Regions from separate parts of the Homo sapiens genome. Here region 1 is linked to region 2. The links come from fine-mapping of genetic effects on gene expression. A gene starts in region 2. The other region holds a variant in brackets. All regions are shown on one strand. Distances are between the middles of the regions.

Evidence for each region. PIP is the estimated chance that this variant, and not a neighbour inherited with it, causes the effect.
Region 1: its variant is fine-mapped to the expression of CDK10 in whole blood (INTERVAL, PIP above 0.99).

Annotation. Positions count from the first base shown.
Region 1 is chr16:89,957,766-89,960,771 of GRCh38, forward strand. DEF8 (differentially expressed in FDCP 8 homolog) reads left to right here. Exons shown (of 13, transcript NM_001242818.2): 6 at 1,249-1,390. Among named protein-coding and RNA genes, the nearest start is that of SNORA119, 5.9 kb to the left of the region's middle. The variant A/G (reference allele first, on the strand shown) is at 1,195.
Region 2 is chr16:89,685,250-89,688,001 of GRCh38, forward strand. It overlaps CDK10 (cyclin dependent kinase 10), which reads left to right and starts at 1,440. Exons shown (of 13, transcript NM_052988.5): 1 at 1,440-1,548. The coding sequence starts at 1,462. It overlaps LINC02166 (long intergenic non-protein coding RNA 2166), which reads right to left and starts at 1,663. Exons shown (of 3, transcript NR_184152.1): 1 at 1,198-1,663; 2 at 1-426. RefSeq lists a silencer at 1,625-1,874.

The sequences.
Region 1 (3,006 bases), 270 kb after region 2:
TCTCTCGGCCTCAGGGGCTGAGGTAGAAGGGCACGAGACAGGCAGGGTGGAAGACGGGCCCTCACCCCACTGCGGGAGGTTTCCCTATTAGCCTAGACCCTCCTGTTGCAAGGAACAGAAACTCAACCCTGAGTAGCTTAAGCCAAAAAGAAAAATGTATTTGCTTGGTGACTGGAAGATCCTCCAGTGTCAGGAATCTTGCTCTCTTCCAACTCGACTTCCTGTGTCTGATCCAGCCTCAGGCAGGCCTTCCCTGTGCGGTGGCAGAGACGGTCCCGGCAACCACATCTTGCTTTCCAGGAGCTGAGCCTCCCTGTGCAGATGACAGCTGCCTTTTCACAGTGGTTATAGCAGGAACCTCAGGCCTGACTTTCATTGGCCAGTCCTGACCGGATGACAGTGGCTGACTGGCCAGTTCTGGGTCATGTGCCCACCCCTGACCCAATGACAGTGGCCGATTGGCTAGTTCTGGGCTGTGTGCCCGCCCACTGACCCAATGACGGTGGCCGATTGGCTAGTTCTGGGCTGTGTGCCCACCCACTGAAGCAAGCGGGTGGGCTAAGTAAGTTCCTCCCTGAGTGAGCCACATGGACAAGGACGGGTGGTGTCTTGAAGGTGACAACAAAAGAAGGTGGTGGGTCCCAGGCCACAGATGTTCCTGATGCAGTCCTTGGGTCTGTGTGTGCTTTGGCCTGGCTGCCCTGTGTCCCCTGTGCTGATTCAGGTATCCCTGGGAATGTAGAAAGTAGAATATTCATGAGGAAACAGGTAAATTGGTGGTAAGAAAAAAAAACCCCAAAACATAGTGGCTTAGAGAAGATGTGTTCGTTTCCTCACGTAAAAATCCCATAGGTGGTCTGGGGCCTCTATGACAGCTAATGGTGTTGGGGAGGGCCTCCTTTTCCATTGCCCTGCACCTAACCGGCAAAAAGCAGGAGGGGCAGAGAGGCCGGGTCGCTCCCGCTCACATGCCCATGGCCCGGTGCAATCCCACACAGCCCCTCGCTGCAAGGGATGCTGGGAAAGGTCGCAAGGGATGCTGGGAAAGGTAGCATGTGACCTTGGCGGTCCTTGTCCAGCTGATCATTGTTTACTGTGAAAGGGAGAAAAGGGACATGGCATTGTGCTGAAACTCACAATCTCTGCCCTAAATGGTGCCTGGAAGAAATAAGTTGAGGGGCTTGTGCGAAGGGA[A/G]AGGAACTTCAGCCCAGCTCACCTGTGACCCCCTCCCTGACTCACCCTCTGCAGGACCCCAATGAGGATGAGCCAAACATCCGAGTGCTCCTTGAGCACCGCTTTTACAAGGAGAAGAGCAAGAGCGTCAAGCAGACCTGTGACAAGTGTAACACCATCATCTGGGGGCTCATTCAGACCTGGTACACCTGCACAGGTGGGCCGAGACCCAGACGAGGAGTGAGGAATGAGAGAGACCAAAGTTCCTGCCTCCGCTGGGCTCACATTCAGATGTGAGCTATCCAGTGTGGTGGCCACTAGCCAAACATGGCCAGTCAAAGTTAAATTAACTAAATATGCATTTCCTCGTTGTACTGTCTACATTGGACAGGGCTGTTCTGGATGAGAAATTAAACTAGTGAATTACATGGTGTGTCTAGTTTGTACAATGAAGAAAAAGGGAAAGGACCTAGCACGTGTTAGGGTGGAGTGAATGTGACTTTAGGGCAGAATGTAAAGGCATCACGTGACTTTGTTTTTTGTTTTTGTTTGTTTTTGGTTTGGTTTTGTTTTTGAGACGGAGTCTCACTCAATCGCCCAGGCTGGAGTGCAGTGGTGCAATCTCAGCTCACTGCAAGCTCCACCTCCCGGGTTCACACCGTTCTCCTGCCTCAGCCTCCTGAGTAGCTGGGACTACAGGTGCCCGCCACCACGCCCGGCTAATTTTTTGTATTTTTTTTAGTAGAGACGGGGTTTCACCGTGTTAGCCAGGATGGTCTCTATCTCCTGATCTTGTGTTCCGTCCACCTCGGCCTCCCAAAGTGCTGGGATTACAGGCGTGAGCCACCACGCCCAGCCGGCGTCACGTGACTTTTAAGCAAAAACTTGAAGGTCAGGGAGCAAGCCAAGACAATATGTCTGGAGGAATGTTCTGGTGGGGGCAGCCCTGTGGTTGATGTGTCCAGTGCCTTAAGGAGGAGCAGAGAGCCAGGTGTGGCTGCAGCTTTGTGTCTGGAGGACTGTTCCGGTGGGGACAGTGCTGTGGTTGATATAAGGAGGAGCAGAGAGCCAGGTGTGGCTGCAGCTCTGTGTCTGGAGGAATGTTCCGGTGGGGGCAGCCCTGTGGTTGATATAAGGAGGAGCAGAGAGCCAGGTGGGGCTGCAGTTCTGTTTCTGGGGGAGGTGGGCTCAGAGGTGGCTGGGGCTTTTCTTTAAGTGCAGTGGGGGCCACAAGTGGGTGCTGGACATACTTGAGCTTTAATAGGTTACTGTGGCTGCTGACTGAGCTTGGACTGAGAGGGAGGTGACTGAGAAGAGGGGGATGACTCTGATTGGGCTGGGGTAGGTGGTGGGAGTGAGGAGTCGCTAAGGGCAGTCCAGCTGAAGGTTTGGAAACGGAATGTAACAGATTAGAAAATAGTCTGACTGAGTGCGGTGGCTCACGCCTGTAATCCTAGGGTTTTCCAGTGCAAAGATGGGAGGATCGCTTGGGCCCTGGAGTCTGAGGCTGCAGTGAGCTCTGATTGCACGACTACACTCCAGCCTGGGCAAAAGAGCAAGACCCTGTCTCTTAAAAAGTACAAAAACAACAACAACAAAAACAGAGAGAGAGAAACCCTTCAGGATAACTCATGATATTGAAAGGGTGGAGCTGCTGAAACCGAGATGGGGAAGCTGAGGGGCTTGGGGTCGGGGGTGGGAGTTTCGTTTGTTACATTTGGACAGGTTGGGTCTGGTGGTGGGAGTGGCAGGTTGGCCCCAAACATGTGAGTCAAGTTGGAGGACAAGGTCTGGGCCACCTTTGGGGCAAGGCTCAGGGGCCAGGGAGAAAAG
Region 2 (2,752 bases):
CGAGGCTTTCAGCTTCGAAGGCTGTGAGACCCCTGATTTCCCACTCCACACCCTATATTTCTGTGTGTGTTTCTTTAATTCCTCTAGCGCCGCTGGGTTAGGGTCTCCACGACCGAGCTGGTCCCGCAGTGGGCAGTGGTTTGGGCCCGACCGAGCTGGTCCCGCAGTGGGCGGTGGTTTGGGCCCGACCGAGCTGGTCCCGCAGTGGGCGGTGGTTTGGGCCCGACCGAGCTGGTCTCGCAGTGGGCGGTGGTTTGGGCCCGACCGAGCTGGTCTCGCAGTGGTTTGGGCCCTGCTTGCTCGACTGGATTTCAACAGTGAAGCCAGATTAGAGGACATGCTGGCTGCCCCGATCCTGGACCTGGACCAATGGTGCTTCCTAAACATTCCATGTCAACTTTTCTTTTTCCACCTTCCAGGGCTGGGCTGTGAAAGAGATTGGAGAGGCAGGTGCCTGTGAGAGAAGCTTCTACCAGCCTGGGAAGTCAGGTCTTCCATGAGTGAGGGGAGGTATCTACTTTGCCAAACCTTGTTAGGGAATGCTGACATAGCTGCCTCTTCCTGCCCAGAAGCTAAGCTTGAATGCCACCCCTCACAGAGCTTCTCTCCTGTCTTTCACTCACTCCTGCTTATTTCTGTGACAGAACTTGACAGCATGGACATTGCCACTTGCTTCCTTCAGTCTCCTGGAGTCCCCATGTCCTGAACACAGAGGAGGCACCCAAATGCTTGCTGAAGCCACATCCCTGGACCAAGTGACCTGACCCTCACCTGGAGGACCTTCACCTTCACCTCTCACCTGGAGGACCCTCTCACCTGGAAGACTCTCTCACCTGGAGGACCACCCCACCTGAAGGACTCCCAACTGGAGGACCCTCTTACCTGGGGGACCCCCTCCGCTGGAGGACCCTCTCACCTGGAGGACCCTCTTACCTGGAGGGCCCTTCACCTGGGGGACTCCCCCACCTAGAGGATCCTCTTACCTGGAGGTCCCCTCACCTGGGGAACCCCCCCCCCACCTAGAGGATCCTCTTACCTGGAGGGCCCTTCACCTGGGGAACCCCCCCCCCCCACCTAGAGGATCCTCTTACCTGGAGGACCCCCCACCGAGAGGACCCTCCCCCCCCACCTGGAGGACCTCCCCACATGAAGGACTCCCACCTGGAGGACCTTCTTACCTGGGGGAACCCGTCTCACCTGGAAGACCTTCACCTGGGTAATCGCCGTGGCCTCCCACTACGGCGCAGCCGGGTCGGCTGCCCGGGCTTCACCCTAAAATAAGGCCCGAACTGCAGCAGTCGGAGCCGATCCCTGGAGCCCAGCGCCTAGGGCGGACCCGCGGGAGCGTCTCTTGGTAACCGTTGCTAAGGAGAGGAAGCCCGGGAAGGAGCTTTCGCGCCTGCGCCGCGGGGCCGTCCGCGTCTGCGCCTGCGCGCAAGAGAGGCGGGGCCAGCGCTCGGCATGGCGGAGCCAGATCTGGAGTGCGAGCAGATCCGTCTGAAGTGTATTCGTAAGGAGGGCTTCTTCACGGTGCCTCCGGAACACAGGGTGCGCGGGGTGCCACCCGGGCAGCTCTGCCCGCCTCGCTAGCGGCACTGCCCGGCTGGGTCTGGGGAGCCTCGTGTCGCGCTGCCGCGCCGAGGCTTCCGGCACGGGCGGGAACGACAGTCCCAGAGTTCCCCGCGGCGGGGGCGGAAGCCGGGGCGGGGCGGGCTCAGGACCCCCGACAGCCGGTCCCTGGAGATCTGAGGGGCCGGGGCGGGCTCAGGGATGCCTCGCGCCCGCGGAGAGACGGGCCCGGGACTTGGGAAGAGCAAGCTCCGGGATCCAGCTCGGGCGCTGCTGGGTTCAGCGCCCGAGCTGGGCTTTGCAGGCTGAGCCGCGAGCCACTTGTTTGTGGGGAGAATTTACACCCGCGACGAGTTCGAGCTTGAAGGCTCCCGCTGGGCTTGGGCTGCATGGAGCGGGGTCCAGCGCTGCCTGGCGGCTTCACGCGAACCCTGGGCGCGTCCCTTGCGGAGGTGCCGGTGCCTCCCTCTGCAGAGACCAGGAGAGAGCCTCTGGGCGTTGGGCGGTGTTGCCCAGGTGCACGGCTGGTGGGGGTGGAGAGCCCTGAACTTTGGCCGCTGGTTTGTGTTTTTAACTGCTGGCTGGTGCTCTGAGAGGCCAAGCCACGTGTTCAGTAAGAATCATTAACAGATCGTGGCTGGATGACAACAGGAGCCACACTTTACTCATCCAGACGTGCAGCAGGCGCTCACCGCGTTGAGAGCCGTGTGCTGGACTCTGGGGTGAAGTAGTGAGTTGGCCTTTTCTTTTTTGTTGTTTTTTTGAGACAGGGTCTAGCGCTCTCGCCCAGGCTGGAATGCAGTGGCGTGATCACGGCTCAGTGCATCGTCAGCCTCCTGGGCTCAAGTGATCTTCCTGCCTCGGCCTCCCAAGTGCTGGAATTACAGGCGTGAGCCACCGCCCCCAGCCTGGCCTGGCATTTCTTTGAGTTCAGGAAGTGTGACAAGGATTTGGACACCCAGAAATAAGCGTGTCGAGAAGAGCACAAGCAGAGGATGTGAGAAGGGGAATTAAGGCGGGAAAGGGAGTTTGAGACTAGGCCATCAGTGAGTGACAGGCCAGATGCTTCTGACTCGGTCCCCAGGTGTCAGGAAGGAATCAGACTGAGGACAAATGCGGCCAGTGGCTCACACCTGTAATCTCAGCAATCTGGGAGGCTGAGGTGGGAGGATTGCTTGAGCCC